Regions from separate parts of the Homo sapiens genome. Here all the other regions are linked to region 1. Evidence: fine-mapped expression QTL. A gene starts in region 1. Each other region holds a variant in brackets. All regions are shown on one strand. Distances are between the middles of the regions.

Evidence for each region.
Region 2: its variant is fine-mapped to the expression of COPG2 in whole blood (TOPMed, PIP above 0.99).
Region 3: its variant is fine-mapped to the expression of COPG2 in whole blood (TOPMed, PIP above 0.99).
Region 4: its variant is fine-mapped to the expression of COPG2 in whole blood (TOPMed, PIP above 0.99).
Region 5: its variant is fine-mapped to the expression of COPG2 in whole blood (INTERVAL, PIP above 0.99).
Region 6: its variant is fine-mapped to the expression of COPG2 in whole blood (INTERVAL, PIP above 0.99).
Region 7: its variant is fine-mapped to the expression of COPG2 in whole blood (INTERVAL, PIP above 0.99).

What each region holds. Positions count from the first base shown.
Region 1 is chr7:130,667,103-130,671,181 of GRCh38, forward strand. COPG2 (coat protein complex I subunit gamma 2) reads right to left here and starts at 1,646. Exons shown (of 24, transcript NM_012133.6): 1 at 1,530-1,646; 2 at 380-432. The coding sequence starts at 1,566. It overlaps TSGA13 (testis specific 13), which reads right to left. Exons shown (of 8, transcript NM_052933.4): 8 at 1,541-2,081. The coding sequence ends at 1,912. RefSeq lists an enhancer at 849-958 and silencers at 1,229-1,818, 1,909-2,018.
Region 2 is chr7:130,610,254-130,614,332 of GRCh38, forward strand. It overlaps COPG2 (coat protein complex I subunit gamma 2), which reads right to left. Exons shown (of 24, transcript NM_012133.6): 7 at 3,291-3,383; 8 at 1,899-1,985; 9 at 700-857. Among named protein-coding and RNA genes, the nearest start is that of COPG2, 56 kb to the right of the region's middle. The variant G/A (reference allele first, on the strand shown) is at 1,825.
Region 3 is chr7:130,501,747-130,505,825 of GRCh38, forward strand. It overlaps MEST (mesoderm specific transcript), which reads left to right. Exons shown (of 12, transcript NM_002402.4): 10 at 898-974; 11 at 2,187-2,250; 12 at 3,193-4,079. The coding sequence ends at 3,310. Among named protein-coding and RNA genes, the nearest start is that of MIR335, 7.7 kb to the left of the region's middle. RefSeq lists an enhancer at 2,305-3,504. The variant A/G (reference allele first, on the strand shown) is at 2,510.
Region 4 is chr7:130,732,639-130,736,717 of GRCh38, forward strand. It overlaps KLF14 (KLF transcription factor 14), which reads right to left and starts at 1,569. Exons shown (of 1, transcript NM_138693.4): 1 at 1-1,569. The coding sequence starts at 1,395. The coding sequence ends at 424. It overlaps LOC105375508 (a long non-coding RNA gene), which reads left to right and starts at 1,626. Exons shown (of 4, transcript XR_927978.3): 1 at 1,626-1,744. RefSeq lists an enhancer at 640-1,177 and silencers at 1,073-1,232, 1,303-1,382. The variant C/T (reference allele first, on the strand shown) is at 1,653.
Region 5 is chr7:130,718,200-130,722,278 of GRCh38, forward strand. No RefSeq gene overlaps it. Among named protein-coding and RNA genes, the nearest start is that of KLF14, 14 kb to the right of the region's middle. The variant CTT/C (reference allele first, on the strand shown) is at 2,091.
Region 6 is chr7:130,547,548-130,551,626 of GRCh38, forward strand. It overlaps COPG2 (coat protein complex I subunit gamma 2), which reads right to left. Exons shown (of 24, transcript NM_012133.6): 16 at 3,694-3,797; 17 at 2,977-3,102; 18 at 1,767-1,829; 19 at 856-995; 20 at 127-298. Among named protein-coding and RNA genes, the nearest start is that of COPG2IT1, 6.1 kb to the left of the region's middle. The variant G/A (reference allele first, on the strand shown) is at 2,269.
Region 7 is chr7:130,351,901-130,355,900 of GRCh38, forward strand. The region is part of intron 5 of CPA5 (carboxypeptidase A5); the gene reads left to right. Among named protein-coding and RNA genes, the nearest start is that of CPA5, 9.1 kb to the left of the region's middle. RefSeq lists an enhancer at 348-994. The variant G/T (reference allele first, on the strand shown) is at 2,048.

The sequences.
Region 1 (4,079 bases):
CTATACTTTCTCATTCCCTTAGGTTGACTACTTCAACTTTATGGGCTATACCAGTTAAATAAGGATCACAATACTTATCTATATCATACTAATACAATGAGATTAATACAGATAACTGATTTCAATAACCTTGCACTAAACACCTGTTCTTACATTTAAAATTCCCAACCTGTGACAGTCTTCATGTCTTTGCATTTCTATAAGCTCCAAATTCTCCTGTGACAAGTAACCCCTCTTTCTTTTCCCTCAAATCTATATTCCCTAAACTCTGTTACGTTTCTTGTTTTGCATGTCGTGATCACAGCAGCCCAGGGATTCTCTGCCCACCACTCTAAAACAGAATAGAAAAGAAAGGGCACAAGATACTTCCCAGTCATACCTCCTGTAAAACAGCACTCTTCTCCAGATGCTGGAAAGGATTGGAGCCACTACCTATTTATAAAACAAAACAAAAAAATGTCCTGAACAGCTGTTCTACACAAACTTATATACTTTCCAGAGAAGGGTACTGAATGCTTGGGAAGTGAACACTTGGATGGCACAGTGATAATCATGGCTAATACGCATACGAACTGAATGAAATCATTTTGATCCCGGCTCTGTCACTGCCATACTCGAAGAGCTGAGACTTCTCTTTCGCAGCAACCCTCTCCAAAATGAGTGTCTTCTTTCCCTGCCCTCTTTTTCCATGAATGTTAAAAATGTGTCATTTCCACAACAACGAAGATTAATGAGATTGTAGTAGGGTGCTTTTGATTTCCTTAGGTAAGCAGTATTTTATGTGTTTCTAACACTTAAGGAGAGGCAGAAACGAAGTTTCCCAGAGAATCATGCAGGCGTAAAGGTGCAAGAGGCCATGGAGGTTGACTAACCCAACCCCCTCTCACACTGTGGGAGATGCTACCAAACACTGAGAATTTTTTTCTTTTTGAGGATGCTTGGCATCTTCCCCATTTGCTCTGGACCAAAGACGGGCATCAAGACGCAGGTCACTTCTGGACACCTGAGCATTCAACGAGCTGTGTCCCACGGGACAGTCTTGCCCCCGGGGACCTGGACAGAGCCGGTGACCCCAGGAAAACGATAAGGTACCAGGCACCTGAACGTTCCTCCACACACACCCTGTGCCGTCGACCCCAGCCCCGGGAACAGGGTGCTCCCACTAGGGGTCCGACCCTACCAGCACCCCTGGACGCGGAGACGCGCGCACGCCCTCGGCCCCCGCCGGAGGCCCGCGCGCAGGGGAGGAGGCGGCTCGGAGGGGCTGCGCCGCAAGAGGGGCGGGAACGGGGCGCGCGCGGGCGCCGGGGCGGGAGCGCGCGGCCCGAAGGGAGGCTCCGGCGCCCGGGGGAGGGGCTACGGGCAGGCCCCGGGCAGCCGCGAGGGGAGGGGAGGGGCCGGCTCCAGCTCCGGCCCCCTGGCACGGCGGCGCCCACGCCCCCAGCCCCGCCGGCCTGAAAGCAGGTGGCGGCGGGCGGGGGAAGGGGCGTCCCGCGGCTGAGGGTGGGCCTCGGAAGCCCCGCGCGTACCAGACTCCTCGTCCTTCTTGTCGAATTTTTTAATCATCTTGGACGACTTCCCAGCGCCCAGACCCACCGCAACCGTCCCAGGCGCCGCAGCCGGCGAGCGGAAGAGGCTGCAGGAAGGCCGGCCCCGCGCTCTCACGCCGGTTGGGCCGCCGCGCCTTCACTCGGGGCCAAGGCCCGCCCTCCCCGGCCGCCCTCGGCCCCCGGGACGCAGCCACGCCCCCTTCTCCTCTTGCGGCCCGCCGGAGACTTCGGCTCGACCCTCCCGGCTTGCGACCCGGGAGCCCACGCCCGCAGCAGCAGGAATGTGGTTTTATTTGGGTGGCGACTTCTGCGGACCCCTCAGTCTCAAGAGAGCGAGGCGGGAGGACTGAGGGGTCTGTGTTCACCCGATGACCGTGGCCTTTTTGATAATCCACTGCGGGGCCCTCCCGTTGCGGAAGGCGCTCTCCCCGGGCGCGGTTCTGGTGGGCATGTCTTCCAAGAGCGATGCGAGTGTCAGTGGTTCCCGAATCACTTTGGAAATTGGCCTTTCACTCGCTGACTTCTTGGAAGCTACGACAAAGCACAGGCACCCTGGTGAATGTGGCTTTTCAGAAGTACTCGAAGGATACTTAATGTGAGATGTAAAGGAGACGCACTTGGAGGGACCAGAGGCTGGTCTTTAGAGGGTAGATTTTGGACCGTGTAATACCATTCCCAACCTATTTTATAATTTTTGGATTCCTTCATTTCATCAAAACCCAGTGGAAAATTCATTGCCAGTTTAGAGTCTTCCTTGTTCAAGCCTATTTCTTTCAATGATTCCATCTGAAACCATATTGACACTTAAGAAACTCACTAAATTAACGTGCATTCATTCCTAACTCATGTTCCTCTTTTTCTCAGAGTGTATGCTGGCTTTCTGTTCTCTTGTCTAAGAGTGTAGCTAAGAAACTTTGTCTGCCTTTGGCTTCACTGGCATAACTTGTTTAGAAATGTAAATTGGGTCTATACTCAACAGGATCGTGCCCCTGCAAAATTAGAGAAATTCTAACCTAGATTACATTCTACATCCTAGAGAAATTCTTTCCCTGAAATACAGATTTAAGATGAACTGTTGATATCCTACATATGGTATCATTTAAGATTTAACTCCGACTTGACTAAATGTACTATTAACTACTATGTTTGCTTTATATGGCTTGTAAAGGTCAAGTCATACTTTGTAGGTGGAGTTTTCTTTGAAGGAAATAGAAGTCTGCACTCATTTATTCTGGGGGTGAAAATAAACAGGCTTTGGGGAAGGAAACATCCTCTTCCTCTTCCTTGGCCCAAGGGTATTGGGAACCTAGGCAGAGACAGTGTAGATAATAGGCCCAGAGGTTCTCAAGGTGGGTAATGCCCCGGAGACCTGCTGAGAAGTAGAAGGACCTGAGTTCAGATTTGGGGCTGACCCTAAGACTAGCCCCTTGTAAAGCAAGATCAATCATTCTCTGCTGTTCTTCAGCTTTTCTGTATATCTATGAAGTTTTGTTTAATACCACAGGTTGTTTTTAGCTGTGCAGTATTTACGGAGTTAAGAGCATCAGTAGGTGGAAATGGGATGGGATGTGGTGGCAGATAGGTATAGCAGGAGCAGAGAAGCCTGAAGAAGCCAGTTAAGGGATGGTATAATATGACCCCAGGCCTTCGGTATCAGGACTATTTGGACTGAGGATGGCTGGCAGACGGGTTGAGCAATCACTGCAATGGCTTTGTGGGACAGGCAAGGATACCTTAGGGAGTCTCAGGAATTGTTTGAGGAGAGAAACCCAGTAGGAGAAATGGACCTTATCTTAAAACCATGAGCTGGTGAAGTCTGAGGACCCACCAATTATATATATCTAATACACAAATGTGTACTCAGTGCCCTGAAATTCTTCATTGGGTCCAAACTGCCTACTGGATAAAACCCAAACCTTTATTTAAATAATATTTAAGGCATTGTGGTATTTTCGATTTCTTGTTATTGTTGTTTGTTTGTTTTTCAGACAGGGTCTCACTCTGTTACCCAGGCTGGAGTGCAATGGCATAATCACAGCTAACTGCAACCTTGAACTCCTAGGTTCAAGCAATCCTCCTTCCTCAAGCCCCCCAAGTAGCTCAGACTACAGGTGCATGCCGCCACACCCTGTTAAATTTTTTTAAATTATTTTTTGTAGAGACAGGATCTCACTATGTTGCCCAGGCTAGTGTCAAGCCCCTGGCCTCCAGCAATCCTCCTGCCCCAGCCTCCCAAACTGCTAGGATTACGGACACGCCCAGCCTGTCAAGGCCTTTTATGATCTGTTTCATCTCTTTCACATATTGAAAGTGATATTGTTGGTGCTTGGTAAGTGTCAGACACTTAGTAGGAACCCTTGAAATACTGTTAAATAAATGATAATATGTGAGGAGGATTCTCATTGTACCCTCTGCCATACAACCTTATTCCAAGCCCCTTCTACCCCATTCCCTACCCCAATCCCAGAGACTTTTGTACCTCTAAGACACACAGACTTATCCTTTGGCCCTTTTAGAGCAGTTTTTTCT
Region 2 (4,079 bases), 57 kb before region 1:
GCAGCTTTAATTAAATTCAGTTATCTGCTGTTTACAAATGATCTGAGGAACAGATCAGGTTTCCCCTTTCAGCAGGGCATTAGTAGTAGTGGCAGATTCTAGAGATCTTTCTCTGTGTTACACCTCAGTTTGCCAGGCCACATAAGAAATCTTTGTTTTAGAGCTCAGCCATAAGCCTTCAGGCTGGGGAAGGGGTCTTCTTTGCTCCCTAGATCCATGCCCAGCTTACTATACCTCAAAAGATTTCTCATTCCTGCCCTTCCCTAGCCTTCGAAAGACTGCTAAAGTATATTTGGTCACATCTTATGTGCCTCAGACTTGTGGAATGATCTTAGGCAAATCACTAAATGCAGTACTTCAACATTCTCTTTTATAAAAATAAAAGGGATAGGATAATTCTTAATGTCCCTGCCAACTTTCATATTTAATTATCTATATATCTTATGATCAATGCATATATTTTTTGTTCAATATCAGTTTGTTAATGTGCTATTAATAATTAAGTACATATACAAGAGCATACAGTAAGGTTAAAAAAAGTGTGACTTGAAATTCCATAATTTTTTTAAAAAATTGAAAAACATTGAACTCATCTGTAAAGTTAGCACTGCCCCAAAAAAAATTCAAAAAGGAAATAAACTCTAAGGTATATTAACTTCGCAAATGGAAAATAACCCAGGTTTAGGTGAAGACACTTACCCATCCTCAGTTTCTTTTAGTAAGCGACTGGCAATTCGGATCAGCATGCAGTAAGCAAACTGTGACTTGAGACCAGATTTAGTAAACTTATTCAACATCTTGGAAACAGCAAGTCGATCATTCTTTCTAAGGTGATACAGGACTCCCAATGCATGGTACTAAAGAACATGAAAAAGAAGGTAGCACATGGATTAGAAAGATGTCAAAATATTTACACAAAAATAGAATTACACGGAACTAGATTAAAGATTTCTTTAAAATACCCAGGTCACATGTACACAAATATTTTTTTCACACTGAACTAAACACAGGCAAGACTGAAAAGATTAAACGTTTCTAATTTACCCCTAGAAGCTGTCAATTCAGACTGGCAGGCATAAAGGAGGTGACATACAACCTGAAGATGGCTCTAGCAGGCTCAACACTGGCTCACACATCCTCAGTACACACGCTCTCGGGTCCAGGGCTTTACTGGTGCTATCTGTCTCTACGAGTGGCTTTACATCATCTGTGGCCATCTTAGTAATTAAAGGATTAATCTCCTAAAGCAGGCTACAAGAGTGTCATCATCTTGACACTTTGTATAAAAACACATGATCAGAGTCAGGAGAATGAGAGTGTTTCCCAAGGGAAAAATGACTACTCTGTTTCCTAATAACTGAATATGTTACCATAGAAGTTATAAACATCAAGAGGGCATAAACGCCCTCTCAAATAAAATGGGGTACTTTACACACAATTTCCAGTGAAGAATTTAATCTTATTCCTCTTAAGAATAACCTAATAAATATCAAAAGAGCTCTTTTTGACAAAATGGTTTCAAAGTTTCATAAAGTAAAAGCTGCTCCGTATGATTTTTATAATGCCTATAATCAAGGCCTCAGAACTTGGAATTATCTTTTTACACAAATTATTTTTCAAATAAAAGACTGCCACGAGCATCTCAATCTACTACTGAATATAACAATCTTTCCCAAATATTCCTACAAAGGGTCATCTAGCTTCTATGAAACACCTGAAGGGCAGTATTCAAATGGCAGTAATCATAATTAGTGAGATTCCTACTTCAGAATACGTACTAGTAGCTGCTTAATTTGCCTTTAGTTAATGTTTATCTAGGGAATC[G/A]ATACACTGCCCCTACAATACAGGTTTAAAGAATGCTGATCCTGAGACAAGCTAATGTGATTCAATGACAATACCTGGACCATAATATTATCACTTGATGCAGCTTCTTGGGCTTCATTGATCCAGCGCTTAACCACATCATAGCTTATCTTCATCATGTGCTAAATACAGAAAAAAAAAAATGAGAATAAATAATGCTTGGTCACTAGAAGCTTAGAAACATGAGTTAGTTTTCTTTGAAAATCACAGACATTTCCCAAGAGGAAGAAAACTATGTAGCTCTTATAAGTCTATTTTGTGTCTTTACTCCTGGAGCAACTGATAAACCAGAAGTATTTTCTCCCATACCTGTTACAAAGGTGAGTATATGTAAGCTGGGAGAGGTGTGTAAAAGGAAGTAATGAAAGAGGAAGAACAGGATAGGGATGGACAGTCAACAGAACGGTGCTTAAATAACGTTATCATAACAAGCTTTACTTCCAGGAAACTCCCCTGGAAGAAAGAGAGTACTAGTATATTCTCTGCTATAAAACTCAGCCAATTATATTCCAGAATCAGGAACTCTTGTATTTAGATGTCTTACACATTCACATATAGGTAACTGACGTTAATCAAATGCAATGTGATAGGTTTTAATGTATAAATTGTGTTCTGCTGAAAAACGGAAAGAAAAATGTATTACTAAAAAAAAGACCACTTCCTGGGAGGAAATTCAGAAGTGGGACAGGAAACTTTGGATTGAAGGATACACGTAGACAAAGGGCACCAGAAAAAGCAGAGGACAAAGAGACAAGTAGTAGAAGTCATAAAGGCAGGTCATAAAGAAGATTTTAAATGAAAGAAAAGGGTCCTAGGTTTCTTTCCTGTCCCATACCCCACACTTACCCCTCTTTTATTATGTGTACAACATAACTTTCAGATTTCCAAAACCTTTCAAACATACGAACATTTTATGTTTTTAATTGCTCAATGATCCTATAGATCAGCAATCTCCAACCTTTTTGGCACCAGGGATTGGTTTTATGGAAGACAATTTTCCCATGGACAGAGGGCAGAGGGATAGTTTTTGGATGAAACTGTTCCACCTCAGATCATTAGGCATTAGATTCTCATATGAGGCCGGCAACCTAGATCCCTGCATGCGCAGCTCACAATAGGGTTCGAGCTCCTATGAGAATCTCACACTGCTGCTGGTCTGGCAGGAGGCGGAGCTCAGGCAGCAATGCTCGCTTGCCTGCCACTCACCACCTGCTGTGCAGCCCAGTTCCTGACAGGTCACAGACCAGTACTGGTCTGAAGCCCTGGGGTGGGGACCCCTGCTCTAGATAAAACACACTTGGATAAAGTAATAGAGGTGTATACATATTTTTAACTGTTTCATTTGTGAGACAATCATAGTGATACTTTGTTTTCGCAACTCAAAACTGTACCATGCTTAAGAACTAGGAAGCTGCTTGTTCACTTACCAGGGAAGATACCAGTGCTGAACTGGATACACTGGAAACTTTATCCACAATGGCCTGCTTCATGTATCTTTCAATGGCTTGCAACATTGTTCCCTAATAACATTCAAAAAGAAAAAATTGTTAAGGAAAAACATGCTTATGCAAAATTACTCTTATGCTTCAAAATAATTTTCAAAAACCAATCTTATATTTGTTTCTGTGCAAATATTCAGAATGCACTAAAAGGATGATAATATAGTAATAATATCCCAAAGGGCAGAACCCAAACAACGAAGTTGAAGCTTTAAGAAAGAACATTTAAGATTATATATAAAGAAGAATAACTGTTCAACAATGAAATAAACTGTCTCAAAATGGAGAATCTCAGTTTGGAAGAAATACACAAGCAGAGGCTGAACCCATCAGGAAAGTCATAAAGAAATTCCTATATGGAGATGGAGCCTGCTTTTGAAGTTATGAAGATTCCTCTATGTGAAGGGCACATATTATATACAGATCCCAGAGAGTCCTAGAAATCAAACGTAATCCCTGATTATCTGAGATACATAAAGAATTAAATGTGTAGTGTACTACTATAGTGAGCCCTCAACATAAAATCCTCTGGAAATACAGTTCTTTTTAACTTTAACTGGGAAAAAGCACTGGGAAGGTGGTGGCAGATAAAGATGAGTAAAAAGACTGAGAGCAATATTCAGATGAAAAAAAGAGTTTTATTGCTAGCACTAGCATGGTCAAGTCTCACGCTGCTACCAATGTAATGCAAAAAATAAAAAACAATCACAACAGAAC
Region 3 (4,079 bases), 170 kb before region 1:
TGTAATTTGAGCACTTTGGGAGGCCAAGGTGGGCGAATCATATGAGGTCAGGAGTTTAGAGACCAGCCTGGCCAACATGATGAAACCCCGTGTCTACTAAAAATACAAAAATTAGCCAGTAATTCCAGCTACTCAGGAGGCTGAGGCACAAGAATTGCTTGAGCCCAGGAAGCGGAGGTTGCAGTGAACTGAGATCATGCCACTGCACTTCAGCCTGGGCACAGAGTGAGACTCCGTCTCAAAAAAAAAAAAAGAAAAAAAAAAAGAAGTAGATGTCAACACAGAAGATCATGTGTTACAATCCTCTTATTTTAAAAATGAGGAGGCTAGCCAGGTCCTTTGGCACATGCCTGTACTCCCAGCTACTTGGGAGGCTGGGGTGGGAGGATCTCTTGAGGTCAGAAGTTATAGCTGTAGTGAGCTATGATTGCACCTGTGACTAGCCACTGCACTCCAGCCTAGGTAACATAGGGAGACCCTGTCTTTTAAAAAACAAACCAACAAATGAGGAAACCGAGTTGAAAGATCTGTGTTATATGTTTGAGTCAGAGAGGTAGGTAGTGGTGGAGCCTAAATTGGAACCTCAGACCTGGGCTTTTTAGTTACATAAAATCCAAACCAACTGTCAGCCTTCCTAGATCTCATTCCCTGCTTAATAAATACACAAACCCACTAATTCTTATATTGATAGTAGGCATAATCACTACTAGAGCTACATGGTGGTTAACTCTAGAGGTTAACAGAAATGGATAAATTAAGTGGGACATTTCCAGGAATGCTAAACTGCTTCTGGATTAAGAAATTGTATCTTGTGTTCCTTGTGGCTCGTTATGCCCTTGAATCCCTGTAACAGTAAAGGTTTCTTGTTCTGCACATGCTGACTTACCTGTCCTACAGTCTCTTACAGTACATCAATCAGAGGAAGAAGTTCAGAAGGCGCTGGGTGGGAGCTCTTGCCTCTGTAACTATCCCCAGTGAGTATTTTTGTATTATTGATAGGAAACTGAAGGACTATAGGGTTAAAGTAATCGCAACTCCTTTATACAATTAGGGTTACCAGATTTAGCAAATAAAAATATAAGATACCCAGTTAAATTTGAATTTTAGATAAACAACAAATGCTTTTTTAGTATTTAAGTATATGTTGTACAATATTTGGGACCTACTTACACCAAAAAAAAATCATTTTTCACCTGAAATTCAAATTTTCTGGGTATCCTTTATTTTACTGGCAACTGTACTCATGACATCTGGAACAGTGATGTGTGTGTGTAGAGTGAAGTATATAAAAAGCTGAGACATTACTGTAAAGGTAGTTGGTATTACTGATTTCTGTGGTGTGCATTGTCAGTGACTGCCACATTACATGCTGAATTGCTCGGACAGAAGGCTGTTTGGATTACTAATCAAGAGGCTATAGGTGGTTTGTGCTTATTTGTCTTTTCATTCTTACAGATTTAAAAAAAAATTATGGTGTTTCACACATAGTGATTAGTGCTCAGGAAATTATTGGTTGATTTCAAATGTCAAGGGTCTGTTATAACTGAAGAGAGACTTAAAGAATGATAGTATCCTGGACTTAGAGGATGTTGAAAGTTGGGCATATCCCATTTGGTCCAGGGTGCAGGAGAGCTGGATGAGGGACCAAATGGTTGTCTGTAGGAGGAGATGTGTCCAATGAATGAACTGGTACGTGCCTAGCAGTTTTTTAGAGGTTACCTAATAAAACAAGCTAGGTTTTGTATCACACAAAAAATTATTTATAGAAAATATTTTCTTGGGCTGGGTGAGGATGCTCACGTCTGTAATCCTAGCTTTTTGGGAGGCTGAGGTGGGAGGACTGGTTGAGCCCAGGAGTTTGGCACCACTCTGGGCAACATAGTGAGAAAAATTTTTCTCTACAGATAATTTAAAAGTTAGCCAAGTGTGGTGTTGCACACCTGTATGTAGTCTCAGCTACTGAGGACACTGAGGTGGGAGGATCGCTTGGGCCAACGAGTTTGAGGTTACAGTGAGCTATGACTGCACCACTGCACTCCAGCCTGAGCAAGGGAGAGAGAGACCTTGCCTATTATAATAAAAAAAGGAAGAAGAAAACATTTCTTTTCGGAGAGGAGTTAATTTTAGGGTGGGAGTAGAACAGATGTGAGAGCTGTTAAGTATTTCATTCCTTTTCTCTTTTCTAGTTCATTTTATCTATGGGCCATTGGATCCTGTAAATCCCTATCCAGAGTTTTTGGAGCTGTACAGGTGAGTCTCCCCGAGAGAAGTCTATGTTTTGTTAGTATCTCATCCTGACAGTGGTAAACAGAATTGCCTGTTGAGGGCTATTGGCTCTAGCCATTGTCTTTAACCTCGCTGGCTGTTCATCCAGGAAACAATAAAAAGATTGAGTTGAGGAATCTTATTCTAACATAATTGTAGTATCAAGACATTCAGTTATACGTTCTCTTGATTTATACATAGTCTGTTTTCACTGTCATGACTGCTACATATTCCTTGGTGTACA[A/G]AAAGCTCTCATGTGAGTCAAAGGTTGAAAGTGGATATACCTACAAAGTGTTTGTTTGTTTTAGTCTGATTGTAAAGCCAATTCATTGGTTTAGGCTGAGCAGATGGCAAGGAGAGATTGAGAAGAGCTCATTGTGGAAAAGTGCCTTCTCATTGGTTGCTATTCTCTCTAGGTACTTACTTGGAAGGTATCAGAATATGAAATCTTGATTATGTCACATAAGAATGTTCCATACCTTCCTGTGGCCTACTGGATACAAGCTAGTAGTAAACAGCTTGCATATAATTTTAAATAAAATACCCCCTCTCTCATCTCCTCCTGGGATTAAGGGAAGATCCTTGGTTATCTCTGCTTGGGCAGTGAGTTGCTGTGTGATCCACTTGTTTGATGCTTCATCCTTCTCTAAGGAGCTGAAAGTCATCTTGCTTTGACAATTGTTGCAAAAGTGTTATATTTTCAAGTTGTTGTTTGTTGGATTATGAACATTTAAAAACTAGTTTGTATAAATGGAATTGGCAAGTTTATCTGCCTAAGATACAATTTCAGAGTAGAAGGTGAATAAGCTCTTTGGTGGCTCCTTCCAGTGTGGTGTGTCCACAGGGTCATTTACTGGGGCTTCCCACTGGCTTACATCCCTCCCGCTCCAGCCTCAAGTTCACCTGCGTGCTGTTCTCTTCCACTAGGAAAACGCTGCCGCGGTCCACAGTGTCGATTCTGGATGACCACATTAGCCACTATCCACAGCTAGAGGATCCCATGGGCTTCTTGAATGCATATATGGGCTTCATCAACTCCTTCTGAGCTGGAAAGAGTAGCTTCCCTGTATTACCTCCCCTACTCCCTTATGTGTTGTGTATTCCACTTAGGAAGAAATGCCCAAAAGAGGTCCTGGCCATCAAACATAATTCTCTCACAAAGTCCACTTTACTCAAATTGGTGAACAGTGTATAGGAAGAAGCCAGCAGGAGCTCTGACTAAGGTTGACATAATAGTCCACCTCCCATTACTTTGATATCTGATCAAATGTATAGACTTGGCTTTGTTTTTTGTGCTATTAGGAAATTCTGATGAGCATTACTATTCACTGATGCAGAAAGACGTTCTTTTGCATAAAAGACTTTTTTTTAACACTTTGGACTTCTCTGAAATATTTAGAAGTGCTAATTTCTGGCCCACCCCCAACAGGAATTCTATAGTAAGGAGGAGGAGAAGGGGGGCTCCTTCCCTCTCCTCGAATGACGTTATGGGCACATGCCTTTTAAAAGTTCTTTAAGCAACACAGAGCTGAGTCCTCTTTGTCATACCTTTGGATTTAGTGTTTCATCAGCTGTTTTTAGTTATAAACATTTTGTTAAAATAGATATTGGTTTAAATGATACAGTATTTTAGGTATGATTTAAGACTATGATTTACCTATACATTATATATATTTTATAAAGATACTAAACCAGCATACCCTTACTCTGCCAGAGTAGTGAAGCTAATTAAACACATTTGGTTTCTGAATAAATTGAACTAAATCCAAACTATTTCCTAAAATCACAGGACATTAAGGACCAATAGCATCTGT
Region 4 (4,079 bases), 66 kb after region 1:
CTGCCACCCCTGACACCCTCTCCAAGGTCCGCCCTGGTGGATGGGTGAGACACCAGAGTCCTTTGAGACTGGGAGCTCCTCAGGCATCTGAGAATTCCAGTTTCACATCCCTGGTTCCAGGGAGGGGAGAATCTTCAGTACTCTGGAGAGTACGGGAGTTCATCCCTTCTTATCAGTTCCTGGGGGCTGTCTTGAGGCAACCCCCACTTTTAGGATGATATACACGTTGCAAGAATTCCCGCTATTTTCCGGCCCCCAGTACCTCCCCAGAGTCCACATGTCTGCCTGGACCCACCCTCAGAGCAGAGGAACCAGTCTGTGCCTTGGTGTAATGACTCTGGGAAAGAAGGATGGGCAGAGAGAAAGCAGGGACAACGGCCTGGGGGATCATCCTTGAGGGTAAGACTGACAGCAATGACTGTCCTACAGGCAGGTGGTGAAGCTGGGCGCCGGGCCGGGACCGGAGCCGGAGGCGGAGCTTTCCACCTCGCTGGTGAGTGGCGGGTCGATGCGGGGAGTTCGACGACGTCCCCGGTACTCGATCATATCTGGATGATAGGTTGGGTGGCGGCGAGCATGCTTGGTCAGGTGGTCGCTCCGGGAGAACTGCTTGGGGCAGAGGGGGCAGGAGAAGCGCTTCTCGCCCGTGTGCGTCCTGTAGTGGCGGGCCAGCTCGTCGGAACGCGTAAACTTCTTGTCGCAGTCGAGCCAGTCGCAGGAGAAAGGGCGCTCACCCGTGTGGGTGCGCTGGTGGGACTTGAGGTGCGACGACTTGTAATAGGCTTTGGTGCAGCCCGGGAAGGGGCATTGGTGGCGCTTGGCAGCAGGTGTGACAGACCTCCTCCGGGGCGCCTGATCCGCGGCGGGGGCGGGGCCTGCCCCTAGGGCCCCTCCAGAGAACCCACCAGAGGCTGCTGGTGCGCCCGGGGCAGCAGGCGCGCTTGGGACGGCGGGCGCATCGGAGGAGCTCTCGGGAGCGCAGACCGCCGCGGCGCCGGAGGCGGGAGCCAGCTCGGAGCACGGGGTCTGGACGGAGCACGGGATCGGGTCGGAGAAGCCGGACGAGGCGCGTGGAGCTTCCCCCGAGTTCTCCCAGGAGCCCTCGCCAGAGCTGCCGCGCAAGTCCGCCCAGACGCTTGCAGCCAGCAGGTGGGGCGCGGCGCCGCCCGCGCCGGGGCTGGGGGCGGGGACCTGCGGGAGCTGGGGGACCGACGCGGGCCCCGGTGGCCCCGGACCCGGCAGAGCGGACTCCGGCGGCGCCGCACCCACCTCCGAGCCAGCGGCTCCACCCGCGCCCTCGGGGTCCGGCGGGCGGCGGTGAACCACGGCGCCCGCGGACATGGACACCAGGCACTCGGCGGCGAAGTAGTCCAGGCACGCCACGGCGGCCGACATGCTGGGACCGCCCGGCCGCCGGCGAGCGCCGTCCGAACGCGGCCGGCCGCGGGCGACGGAGTTCCCGGGAGCGTCCGTCCCGCAGCCTCGGAGCGAGAAGCAGGAGGCCGGGTGCTCGCCGCCTGCCGCCTGCTGCCGCCGCCGCCGCCGCAGCCGCCGCTGCCGCCGCCGCCCGCGCGGAGCCCGCCCCGCCTGACGCGCCCCTGACGCACCGGAGCCCGCGGGGGCGGCAGAGACCCGCCCCGGCCCGCAGGACA[C/T]CCCCTCGGAACGCGCGGCCCCCGGCTAAGTCATGTTTAACAGCCTCAGAAATTATCTTGTCTCCGCGTTCTTTCTTCTGCCGGCGAGCCAGGTAATGGTAACAGAGCGAAACTCCCCAGTCGGAACTTCTGGGTTGCAGCAGCCTCGCCCCCCCTCCCCGCAGCCCGCCGCCCGCTGGTCCGTCGCCAGCTGGGTGTCCCGCGGAGTCCCAGAAAGTTTTTTTTTTTTTTAAGGAAAAAAATTGCTAATACCTGACATGTCTTTCGGTTCATAATTGCGATTGTTAGCGAAGTGGTCTCGAATTCCATTTCACTCCCCGTTCGCCGCTCTCAGACTAAATTGCAAATATCCCCAAGTCTGTAGCAAAAAAAGTTTTCTCATTGAGCAGGTCAACTGTGAACCCGGGGCCGGGAGCAGTTCCCTAAATAGATCCGCTACGTAGCCATTAATTAATAGCATCTCGAACCAGAAACAGTTTTAACCTTGGAAAAGCAAAGAATCCTCTCCCGGTTGAAATTGAAACTTAAAATCCTTTGAGTAACGATTTAACTATTCAGCCAACGAAAGAAAAATGCATGTTTAAACTGCATTAACCTGTCACTGGCATCCAAACAAATTTAAACGCTGAGATATAAATTATAGTCTAGCGGCGAGATAAACACATTAAAATGGACTCCCACCATTTTAATAATAGAAAGTCACGTTTCCAATTAGGCATTATCTTGTAATTTGCTTTTGACGAAAGTTAAATGTAAGGAAATGCAGCACATGATATAGAATGCTCATATGGTGTTTTGTGATTGTGGAGGTTTGCCTTTTTTATAATCAAATGCATGTACGGTTTCTTTTACGTGTCTTCATTGCTCTCATTTTTTCCCTCGTTTTTCTTTTTAAAAATGTAAAACTACATAGAAAAACAAACAGGATAATTTCTAAAAATAGTCATATCTTAGTTTTTGATGTATACAAGCTTTTATATGAGTGAATTGTGTGCATTTTATTTGTAGTTCTTCAGTACTTTTTCTTTTGAAAATTAATACGTATGTATCAAGAATAACATACGTTCATGTATTTACTGCCTAGGGTAATCAAATGTGAAATTTTTGTTATAGTTGTTTCATGTTTTTATTTATATTAAACATTACAGATAGAGTTGAATGTCACTTTGTTTCCCTCCCCAGTTCCATTCACCTTTCTCCCTCTTCACTTTTCTAGGTAATTAGTATTATAAAGTGGCTATTTAATCTGCATTTGTTTTGATACCCGTATTACCTAATTATACATGTAAATATATGTATATCTCCATGCTTATTTATTAAAATTTTTAAGTAAATGGTTCACTAGTATACATATCATTTTGCAACTTCTTTCCCTCAATATGATTTTGACAGCTATCCAGGTTGACACCTATAGAATCTACTTTATTCATTTCAGCAGTTTTTAAATAATATTGTCAGTGTTATTATTTTTAAGGCGATTCCATTGCAAAACAGTTAATTTTTCTGAAGTTCCTCTAGACGATTAACTCTTCGTTAATCTACACATTAAAATCTATCAGATAGAATAATTTACTAGCTGTTTTAATTTTATTATTTAGAAAAAATGTGAAGATATTTAAAATGCAGAGAGAACATTACAAGCACCCATATACCTGTCTCATATAATGAATATGTTAACATTTTGTTATATCTCCCTCAGATCTATTAAGTATTCAACATTTCTGATAAAATTGAAGGTCCCCTTGTACTGCCCCCAATACCATTCTCCACCCTTTTCCCCAAAGGCAAACACTAACATGAATTTGGTATGTAACTTTCCAGTCTGGGTTTTACAATTTAACTGGATGTGAACCTATAAAATGCAGAATATTGGTTTATATGATTTTTTTAAATGTACAAACATGGTATTAGGCTGTGCATATTATTCTTGGACTTATTTTTTTCATTCATGGTATGTTTTTATTTTTTCTCTTCGTGTTGATAAATATAGATCCAATTCATTCATTTTAATTGCTATAGTGTGGATCCATGCATACAAATGTGTCCTGTTTATTCATTCCCCTATTGATGAATATTAAACTGCTGCCAATATTTTGGTACTACTTGTACATGTTTCCTTTGCACATATGTGAGAATTTCTCTATGTATCTACCTAGATGGGGAATTGCCGGGCTCCACACACATTTTCAGTTTTGCGAGAGACTGCCAAATGCTTCAATTTGCACACCCATCAGAAGTGTGTGACAGTTCACGTTTCCCTCACATGATCTTCAACACTTTCTAGATTAAGATTTTTATTATTCCTGCCAATTTGATTATTTTAAAAAACAGTATCTTGTTGTCTTATTTGAATTTCCCTCACTGCTAGCAAAGTTAAGCATTTTTTCCCCATATGTTTGTTGGTTATTGAGGTTTCCAAGTCTGTGA
Region 5 (4,079 bases), 51 kb after region 1:
ATTACCTTGTAATAATATTTTGTTTTGTTACAGTGTAATAGTTAAACAACTGAGGTAGAAATTGTATGTTTCGATTGTAAGATTCAATTAGTGATTTACTTTAAGACTATCAGTGGGTCATTCCACCATATTTCTTTTCTTTTTTTTTTTTTTTTTTGAGACAAAGTCTCGCTCTCACCCAGGCTGGAGTGCAGTAAGTAGCATGATCTTGGCTCACAGCAACCTCCACCTCCCAGGTTCAAGAGATTCTCCTGCCTCAGCCTCCTAAGTAGCTGGGATTACAGGTGCGTGCTATGATACGCAGCTTAATTTTTATATTTTTAGTAGAGATGGGGTTTCATCATGTTGGCCAGGCTGGTCTCAAACTCTTGACCTCAATGATCCACCCGCCTCAGCCTCCCAAAGTTCTGGGATTACAGGCATGAGCCACCGTGTCTGTCTTCCCCCGTATTTCTTAAAAATTTTATCTCCTGGCTTACCTTTACTCTTGCCATTACTACCCCTGCCTTAAGCTTGGTGAATGTCTCATACACATAGAAGACCCTGACATCTCAATTCTTTTTTTTTTTTTTTTTGAGATGGAGTCTTGCTCTGTTGCCCAGGCTGGAGTGCAGTGGCACAATCTCGGCCCACTGCAACCTCCGCCTCCCAGGTTCAAGTGATTTTCCTGCCTCAGCCTCCTGAGTAGCCGGGATTACAGGTGCGTGCCACCATGCCCAGCTAATTTTTTGTATTTTTAGTACAGACGGGGTTTCACCATGTTAGCCAGGATGGTCTCAATCTCCTGACTTCACAATCCGCCCACCTCGGCCTCCCAAAGTGCTGGGATTACAGGCATGAGCCACCGCGCCTGACCAACCTCTCAATTCTTGACCTCCTCTCCCACAAGGATCTTCTCCACCTCACCTTAACTATTCACTTCCATGGCCATTGCTTAGATTTTATCATTATGTATAGGTGTGACCCCTGCATAATCTCAGTGCTATGATTCCCATTGTCTGATCACTTTCTCCTATCTTTCCAGTTTACTGTCTAACCCCAACAAACCTTTGGCATCCTATACTCAAAATACATACAATATTTATTTACAAAAATTACATCAGGTAATACAGAGGGCAAATATGTGCCAAAGACAAAAAGAACATTTTTAGAGCCATAAAAAGAACATTTTAAGCCATTTCCTGAAGCAATAAACTGGCTTCCATAAAAAACACACACACCATTCCATTTGTACCAATTTATTTTCCATTATTCTTCCCCACCTTGCTGTTCTCATTCCTCTCCATATCCAGTTTAAAGACCATGGTCTCTTATTGTAAGTACTCCCATTCACATAACTTTGATTCCCTTGCCCCCTCTCACTTTTTGGTCAAACTAAAACTTTGGGTAATTCAACTTCTCCACCCAATCTATGTCTAAACCCACACAGCTGAATGAGGCTGATAAGCGTGCACAGACACAGACTGACTAATCTCACATTAAATTCACAATTGCTAGCGTCAAGTGAATTATTAATGCTGCCTGGGAATCACACATAGTTCATTACTCTCCCCCTCTCCTAAATGACTCACACATTTTCCTTTCTCCTCAAACCCCCAATTAGTTCATGTCTCATTCACAAGCTCAGTTGATGACCTTATTTTCTAATTCACTGAGAAATATTACACAATCAAGAAAGAACTTCCACAGTCTCCCATCACTGCATCCACCCACTTACCTGTGTCTTTAATCTCATATTATGCCTCTCCGACTGCTTCACAGATGGAATGTCCATGCTCCTAGCTAAAATCAATCCCTCTGCTTGTGCATTAGATCCATTGCGCTTGCTGCCTTAAGGATATTGTTCCTGCAATTCTCCCCCTCTTTCTCTTGCATTAATAATTTTTACTCCCTCTTGGATCATTTTTATTAGCAAATAAACAGGCTGCTTTCCTTCCCATCTTAAAAAAAAAGACAGAGTAAAAGCAATCATTTCTCTTGACCCTGTTTTTCCCTGCCAACTTCTACTCTATTTCTTTGCTCCCATTTGCAGGAAAATGTCTCAGAATAGTGCCCTGTACTCATGGTCTACAGTTTCTTTCCTCTTACAC[CTT/C]TTTTTTTTTTTTTTTTAACAGAGTTTTGCTCTTGTCGCTCAGGCTGAAGTGCAGTGGCACGATCTCAGCTCACTGCAACCTCCACCTCCTGGGTTCAAGCGATTCTCCTGCCTCAGCCTCCCGAGTAGCTGGGATTACAGGTGCCCGCCACCACACCCAACTTTGTATTTTTAGTAGAGAAGGGGTTTTACCACGTTGGCCAGACTGGTTTTGAATTCCTGACCTCAGGTAATTCGCCCTCCTGGCCTCCCAAAGTGCTGGGATTACAGGTGTGAGCCACCGCACCTGGTCCTCTAATGGTTTCTTAAACCCACTGCAGCTGGGGTTTTAGCTCCTGCCACTCCATCACAATTACTCTGCTCAAGGCTGCTGATGACTCCCTCCTGGCTAGAGCCAACAGTCAGATTCCCAGCCTTCCTCCTACTTGACATAGCATGAGCATTTCACAAAGTGGACTACTCCATTTTTGGGTGCACTTTCTTTACTAGGCTTCGAAGACACCACACTCTCGGCTTTCCTCCTACCTCACTGGTCATGCCTTCTTCGCCTCCTTGGCTGGTTCCTCCTGCTTCCCTTGGAGTGCCCCAGGGATCAGTCTTAGCCTTTTTTCCCTTCACCCTCTACACCCTCTTGTTGATCTCATTTGGACTTACAGCTTTAAATAACATCTATATGCTGATAACTCCCAAATTTTTCTCTCTAGCCCAGACTTCTTTCCAAAACACCAGATGTATCTATTTTACTGCCTCATCAAAATTTCCAAGGGATGTCTAATTTTTATTTCAAACTCGACAGTCCAAAACAGAATGCTTTTTCTTCCACTACAAATCTGCCCCACTTCTAGCCTTCCTCATCTTAGTTGATGGAAACTCCATCCTCCCAGCTGCTCAGGCAAAAGACTTTTGAGTCACTGTGACTCTTCTCTGTCTCTCACTCCCCATGGTCAATCCTTTAGGAAAATCTATTGGCTTTTCCTTTAAAATATATCAGAATCTACCATCACTGTGGTCCAAGCCACCATCATCTCTGATCTACATTAATGAAATTACCTCCTAACAGATCTCTCTGCTAAAACCCTCAAACATAGAAGTCAGAATGATCCTTTGAAACACAAGTTATATCATCCTATGTTTCTGTTCAAGATCCTCAATGGCTTTCTAGTTTACCCATAGGAAAAGTCATTACAGTGACATATAAGGCACACATGGTCTGGCACCTTCCCCTCCTTCTGACCATAACTCTGCTCCAGTCCTGCTAGTTCCTTTACTGTTTCTTGACCTCATCACCTAGGGTTGCTTCTTTAGCTGTGCCCTCTGCCTGGAACACTTTTCCTCCAGATATCTGCTGGCTAACTTCCTCAACTCCTTCAAGTCTTTGTTCACGTCTCATTTGCACAATGAAGCCTATTCAGATCACACTGTTTATGACCTCACCTTAACCCCTACTCTCACTTAGCACTGTTGATCCCACTCAGTCTGCTCTACTTTTCATTAATTCCATGTCTTCTGCTATCTAATGCTGATTTATTTTTTATTTTCTATATTCTTTCTGCTGGAATAGAAAATCATAAGGGCAGGGATCTTTATTTTATTCACTTCAATGTCCCAAGTGCCTACAACAGTGTCTGCCATATTTTAGTGCTCAATCAATCCTTGTGGAACTGTATTTTTTAGCCCATAAAAGCCTGGTGCTTTTTGTTGTTTTTGTTTTGTTTCATTAAAGATAAAAGCCATGACTACACATGACCCCAGAAGGAAAGCCTCTAGCTAGCACCGCCTCTGGATGCACTTCAGTCCAGTCCATTGCTGACCCCTGCTGGAACTCAGCGACCAAGTTGCTGTCTGTCCCTTGACTGGATGAGTGGACCTGGAACTCCTTGGGGACCGGCAGGGTGACAAGAGGCTGCTGATATCCTCTTTGCCACCTACTTGTTCCATACCCTGTTTGTAAGAGCCGTATCTGTAGTCCTACCTCTCCCTGGGGATT
Region 6 (4,079 bases), 120 kb before region 1:
ACACAAACACTCATCATTAAATTCTAGAAAAGCATCACATTCTTAAACTGAGCATTTGAAGAGTTGAAGAGCTCACAAGGAAATGCATTCTGAATCACGTATCTCCTCCCTTCTGAGGGTTAGTACCTGCTGTAGGGTCATCATCAGGCAAACGAACAAGAGTGTAACATATTCCTGGTTGGTTATAAGGAAGGCTGGGGGCTGGGATACAAGACAGCACTTCATAGGAATCTGATGGCTCCATCTGCACTGTCACTTTTTCCAGCAGCTGGTCATTGAGAGTGTTGGTGCAGTCAAACTGAAAAGTCAGTAAATGGAAAAGCTGTGAAGGATAACAAGTTATCCTTCCTACTCATAACCCACTACTCAGCTCTGGAACCCACTATACCTTCTATCTCTACAGAGCAGGGTAGGTCTCCTCCTAAGATTCTTCTTTTGGCAACAGGGAGAGCCTTATTCTTGAGGTCTTTTGTTTATATTATTCATCAGTTTTTTCTCTTTCCTGAGACTGCTGTCTCAAACAAGATGGCAGAAGTCTGATGGCTGTCAAATCTAAGTTCTCAGAATAGCCCACTTAATCTACCCTGATGTTAAATGCTGATTTTAGAAAATTGGTTATACTTTATGTTGTCCAACTTCATCACACATTTCAGTTTTATGTCCTTTAGATTTTAACCATCAAAAGTTACCCATCACATGAAGGGATCTCTATAGCTCTGGTGTTAAGCAAGAAAACCAGAAATTCTGCCAAATTAATTCTCTATAATAGAAACTAGAATTATAGGTAAAGGATATTTGTCTCAAAGCATACCAGTTTATACTAAATCTCTACAGCAGCCAAGGGCATTATCTTACCTGGAACACGATGTGATTGGTAAACATGTGCTTGATACATCGAACAAAATATTCTGTCTCTGCTTCTGTAAGTTGAACAGGCTCAGAAGACTTGAACAAGGGTCCTATATTCAGAAACTCAGGAATGGCAGCCAATTGTTCTATCAAGAAAAAAGAACGTAGGCTATGAAGAAGACAGGGAAAGACTTCAGTCTGGATGCTTAAAAAATGCTTTAGTTGGCCAGGAGCAGTGGCTCACGCCTGTAATCCCAGCACTTTGGGAGGCCGAGGCAGGCGGATCACGAGGTCAGGAGATCGAGACCATCCTGGCTAAGACCATCCTGGCTAACATGGTGAAACCCCGTCTCTACTAAAAATACAAAAAAATTAGTCAGGCGTGGTGGCAGGCGCCTGTAGTCCCAGCTACTCGGGAGGCTGAGGCAGGAGAATGGCGTGAACCTAGGAGGCAGAGCTTGCAGCGAGCCGGTATTGTGCCACTGCACTCCAGCCTGGGTGACAGAGCGAGACTCTGTCTCAAAAAAAAAAAATGCTTTAGTTTCCATAGCCTTACTAATAGTTGAACATTCAACTAATATGTCCCCAAGTTTTAGTGAAGTCATCTTTCAAGTAAGTAAGCTTATATATTAATGAAAGCAAAAAGCAAAAAAAAAAAAAAAGAAAGTAAATACTTATTTTACAATGAGTTCCCTGTTAACCAACGAGATACAGAAAAGAAAAACATTCCCAATTAGCAATTACAAACTGGAAAGTTCATGGACTCCAGGTAGCCTCAGCAACTATACCCTATGGTGTTCAGCCACACGAAGATTTCCTATATTGAGAACCGATCAATTTGAGTAAGACTGGTAGACTTTTTATATTTACAATGCCTAGGGGAAAGATTATTACGTCTAACCATCAAATCATCATACCTTGGAAAATGTCTTGCCTGGAAGGAGCCAACTTCTCTGGCTTAGTAGCCACAAGTGTGATTTCTATAAAGACAGATATGAGCAAGTAAGTGAACTTCTCCCACTACTATCAAGCTAGCAATGCAGACAGAAAGAGAGGAGAGCAGACATTTCTAGCAGATATATAATGAGCTATTACTAGATCATACTTATAGGTTATCTATCACTTCTGGTGGGGGGACACTCAAATTAAAATGTATTTAGTGAACATATATTGTGGAATCATAAAGTAAGCCCTAAAAATATAGAGTTTGCTTTAAATGGACTGGAATGTACAAAAATTACTCAGAAAAGGAAAAACAATTTATTTTAAAAATCTTCTCATGATCAAAATAGGAAAAATTACTTATATCAACAGAAAAACTGAAAATGTTGAAAATAAGCATAAAATTGTTTCTTCCCAGTTTTGTGTTCTAACCACTAAACATTTATGACTTCTTTTGTTTTTGTTTTTAAGTTTTAA[G/A]ATTAGATATTCTTTGGGAATATTTTTTATGATTGTCGCCCATAAATTCTTTTAAGACGAACCTCCAATAACAAAATCAATTAACTTAGAGATTATCAACTTCAGAAAATAAAAATAGGAGGCGACAGCACTATTACTGCTCTGAGATGCACAGTGGCAACTGACTTCAGATACTGTAATGCTTTGCATTAAAAAAAACCCTTCATTTTGGAGTGCATTTCATCTTACTGCTTTTATGTAAAAACCAGGAGTTTTTTTTAAACTCTAATAAAAATATGTCTTAAATCTAAAAGATTTAGAAGGGGTGACAATCGGCTGAGCACGGTGGCTCCCGCCTGTAATCCTAGCACTGTGGGAGGCCGAGGTGGGTGGATCACCTGAGGTCAGGAGTTCAAGACCAACCTGGCCAACATGGTGAAATCCAGTCTCTACTAAAAATAGAAAAATTAGCCAGGTGTGGTGGCGCATGCCTGTAATCCCAGCTACTCGGAAGGCTGAGGAAGGAGACTCGCTTGAACCCGGGAGGTAGAGGTTGCAGTGACTAGAGATCGCGCCACTGTGCTCCAGCCTGTGCGACGGGAGTGAGACTCTATCTCAAAAAAAAAAAAAAAAAAAAAGAGTGACAATTAAATGAGTATTAGAGAAAATATGCTAATATTTTTTAGTTTTGCAAAACTACTTATACACAGAAAAATGAATAGAGTGAACCTGCTTTCTGTTCAAAGACAGGAGCCATAGCAAGAGGAATTGATTTCATGTCAAACGGTTTTTCTGAAGGCTCCAACGTGTACTGGTGTAAGGCTTTTTCCATCCCTGGTACAGAGACCGTCAAACCTGTGAAACATAGAGAAATCTCAGCATTATAACCTCTTGCCAATCCTCGAATCCAAATAGGCCCAGGTTTGTAATATTTATCTAAGCTTTCTGAAGGAAGAGAAAAATATAACCAAAAGCTTTATAACCTAAATATAAAAATAAAGGATATTCTTGAAATTACCTTATAAACTTATAAACTGACTTATTTCATTCAAGGAAACATGGGAGCATAGCATACACATTTTCAACAAAATGTATGTACCTCCCAGAAAAGAAAGCAACTTAGCTATATGGGAACAATGATAGCATAAGAAAACGGGAAAAATGTAAACCCATCCAAGAGGGAGTTCAAGGAGAACCAGGAATAAGTGAGCAACGTTCCTAAAAAATGTAAGGGCCCAATCTATATTCTTATAGATTGCTGCATAGGAATTATCATTACCAAATTAGAAAATATCCTATAAACACAGGTTTCTCTAGAAATGGAAGTGCACTCAAAGACAAAAACCAAGCATTTGCCTAGTGAAGTTAGCTCATATGCAAATCATAAAATATGCTTCCAAGACACCATTTGAGGAACAAAAGTGTACATCCTTGGCTTTCACTGACCATTAAAGATATATGTGGCATTTAGTGCCATCTGCCTCTGCTGCAGCACATTCAGATAGAAGGTAGCTCTGTCTCGTACCTCGTCATCAGTATCCATCATACACCTGTCCAGGGGAAACAGAATAGTCATGTCACAGTACCCCAAAGACTTCCAATAGCTCTACTACCAAATCTAAAGGACACAGCTCAGGTCGTCATCTGATACTACCTTTAAAAAAGTGCTCAACAATAGCCAACAGTGGCTCCTAAAGTCTTCACAAATCTTGGGTACTGCTCTGAATTACTAAAGAAATACTGCTACTGTGAATCACAAGCACTACATAAGTAGGCATTAAAATAACGAGGAGCACAAGAACATGAAATAGCAGTCTGGAGTCTTTTCTTCC
Region 7 (4,000 bases), 320 kb before region 1:
TTCAGGACAGGCACAACCTTATTCACATGTGGGTCTTTGTTCCTCTGGCCCCCTCCCCTCAGCCAAGGTTCAGCTCCACGCTCCGTGTCAATCTTCCTACCCCAGTACCTACCATAGGACCTGCTGCTTCGTTGAGGCTTGATAAATGTCAGTGGAACTAATAGACATTCATTAGGAGGAGGAAAGGAAAGAGGAGTGGTCGTGTTTGGTGGCTAGGACCAGGCTGGAAAACCTCGATGCTGGTTTTTACTTTGGCCAGAGGCAGGGGAGATTTTGGAATCTCTCCCTCCCTCTGCCCTGTGATCAGAGGGATGCTTGAGAAACATGAGGCAGGGCCATTCATTCCACTCCCAGACACAGAGAGCCCTACTGTGTGCTGTGCATCGGGCAAGGGGCTGGAAACACAGAGATAAAAAACTTGGCCCTGTATCCAGGACAGCTGGAGGGTCGCGGGGGCCGGGGATGGAGGGGGGTAAATCGGTGGTTACAATGGAGTGGATGAGCGACTGATGGAGTGAGGGCGGTTGCTATGGGAGCGCATACAAGAGGCACTGCACGCCGTGCTTCTGAGAAGGCGGTAATTACGGTGCGCTGAAGAGCAGGTGAGGGGGGGCTGGCCAGAGGAAGGGGGGCCCCCACCCCGATTGGTGATGAAGCCAGACCCCATCACAAAGAGTGCCCTCCACCATGTGACGAGGTCAGGATTTTATCCTGACAACTAGGGGGGAGTCATGGGAGGTGCTTTCACATGATCAGATTTGCATTTCAGAAACACCACCCTGACAGTGACAGTGTTGAGTTGGGGACAGGACCAGGGAGAGACTGACAGGCAGGAGGGTGGTGAGGAAATTGCAGTGGGCCAGGCAAGAAATTATCTGATTCCGAGCGAGCTCTATTTGCATTTAATTTTTCTTCACCTCGTTCTTTTCAGCCCTTTGGTTTTTTTTTTTATTTTTTCCCTAGGATGAGTCACCATGGAAAAACTTCACTTGAGCAATCAGCTCTGTGGCTTTTAATGGCTTTTTTTCTGATTACAAAATTAATAAATATTCATGTTAGATAATTTGGAAAATAGTGGAAAGCACAAGGAGAAAACAAAAATCACCCATACTCTGACCATCTAGAGCAGAATACAATTGAGTGTAAATACTGCGTTGCCAATTTCCCTCGCCCTAGTGGATCACTCTCATCACCATGCAAATACAGTTATTTCTCCCATTTAAAAAAACCCTCTCTTGATCCCTTCCCTCTCCCCTCCAGCCATCACCCCATTTTTATGCTTCCCCATAGACTGAAACTCCTGAAAATACTGACTCTCCCTGTCATCTCCATCCCTGTCCGCCAGCAGGCTGCCCACCCCCTCACTTCACCAAAGCTTCCCTCGACAATGTCACACGCAACTTCCAGATCCAACCCGATGGCCGACTCTCAATGTTCCTCTTCCAACAGCACAACTGGTCACTCTCTCCTTCCTGGAGCCTGTCTCTTCCCCTGGCATCCAGGACTTCTGTGTTCTGTCTCCAGCCAGCACCTCCTCTCCTGGATCCAACCGCCTACTCAGTGTTTCCACCTGGGGGTGCAATGGGCATCTCCAACTTTCCAGGTCCAGACCAAGCTCCCCTGGCCCTTCATCGGTGCCTCCACAGCCCTCTTTATCTCAGGAAATGGCAACACCATCCTTCCAGTCACTCAGACCAGAAGCTGGGAGCCATTCTTGACCCCTTCCTCAAACTCCCCATCAACAACAGATTTATCGCTGCCTTCAGAATGGATCTTAGCACATCCCACACCACCCCCGAGGGCCCATGCGCCATCTCGTCCCTCACCTGGGTTCTTCCAGTTGCTTTCTAACTGCTCTCCCCCATTCTCCACCTTGATTCCTTATTACCTAATCTCAAAACAGCAGCCAGAAGAGTCCTTTAAAACTATTGCAAATTCAAGCATGTTGTTCCTCTGCTTAAAACCCAACTAATTTGGAGTAGAAGCCAAAGCCCTTGCAATGGTCATAAGGCTTTTCATTTTATTGTATTTATTTATTTTGAGACAA[G/T]ATCTCACTCTGTTGTCTAGGCTTAAGTGCAGTGGCACGATCATGGCTCACTGCAGCCTCGAACTCCCAGGCTCACTCCATCCTCTCGCCTCAGCCTTCTAAGTACAGGCCCTGGGACTACAGGCCCATGTCACCATACCCAGCTAATTTTTGTATTTTTTGTAGAGATGGGGTCTGATTATGTTGCCCAGGCTGCTCTTGAACTCCTGGGCTCAGGCAACCCGCCAACCTCGAGCTCCCAAAGTGCTGAAATTACAGGTGTGAGCCACCACGCCAGACTGCTCATCTTATTTTAAATTGTACCCTTCTTCCCCACTTCTCCAACTTCCTCTTTCTTTCCCATTTCACTCTTGTTGACATTTACCTTTTTCTCATTGCTTATATAATTTAATTCTTTACTTCTTTAAATTATTATCTTGCTAGCTGAAGAGTACAGTTTTTATTTGTTTATTTGTTTTCTTTTTGAGACAGGGTCTCACTCCCTCACCCAGGCTGGAGTACAGTGGCATGATCTCGGCTCACTGCAGCCTCCACCTCCCAGGCTCAAGCAATTCTCATGCCTCAGCCTCCCGAGTAGCTTGGATTACAGGCACACACCACCACCCCTGGCCAATTTTTGTATTATTATTATTAATTTTTTTTTTAAAGTAGAGACAGGGTTTCACCATGTTGGCCAGGCTGGTCCCAAACTCCTGGCCTCAAGTGATCCACCTGCCTCAGCCTCCCAAAGTGCAGGGATCATAGGCGTGAACCACGAGAGGTTTTTTTGTTTGTTTGTTTTTGTTTTTTAAGATGGGGTTTTGTTATATTGCCCAGGGTGGAGTAAAGTGGCTATTCACAGGCACAGTCATAGCGTACTGCAGCCTTGAACGCCTGGGCTCAAGAGATCCTCCTGCCTCAGCCTCCCGAATGGCTGGGACTGCAGGCGTGCACCACCATGCCTGGCTTGAATAGCAGAGTTTTAAAGGTAGAAATGCTGTTGGCTGGTCTGTGGGTGAGTGGCAGCTCCAGAGAGGAGAAGAAGACAACAGGAAAGATTGCAGGAGAAGCCAGGGAAGACAGCAGCAGTGATGGGCAAGACCCTAAGAGAGATGGAGGCTGCCTGCATCATGGGGGTAGGGACAGAAGAAGAGGACCCAGGCCCCTCTGTTGGGCCCCATGAAAGTCAGGTGCTGACTGACTCCCCCAGATGACCATTAATGGGGGCTTTCTGCCCTCCAAGTCCTACAGAAGCTATCCTACCTCTGGAGAAACCCAGACTTCCTGGTCATGCCTTGTAATGCTCCATCACAGAGCCCTGGAGTCACCCCAAAGTTATTATCACCCTCCTTATCATTGTCACACTCCTCCTCATCATCATAGCTAACATTCACTAGCATTTACTACATGCCTGGCAAAAGTCTAAGCATTTAGCATGTATTAACCCTTCTAATCCTCATGAGAACATTGGTGTGTGTGTGTGTGTGTGTGTGTTTGTGTGATGGAGTCTTGCTCTGTCGCCCAGGCTGGAGTGCAGTGGCACAATCGCCCCTAACTGCAACCTCCGCCTCCTGGGTTCAAGCAATTCTCCTGCCTCAGTTTCCCAAGTAGCTGGGCTTACAGGCGCGCGCCACCACGCCTGGCTGATTTTTGTATTTTTAGTAGAGACAGGGTTTTGCCATGTTGGCCAGGCCAGTCTTGAACTCCGGAGGCCTCAAGTGATCCATCTGCCTTGGCATCCCAAAGTGCTGGGATTACAGGTGTCAGCCACTGCGCCTGGCTCTCATGAGAACATTTTAAAGTATGTGATAAAGTATGTGATAACATGACCTCCATTTTACAATGGGGAAACTGAGGCACAGAGATGTTAGTAATTTGATGGAGTTGGTGGCAGGATCAGGGTTTAACCTGAGCTCCCGCACCCTCAGACTCCACTCTCAAGGCATCTGTCCCCTCAGTGGTCATCACTGTTGT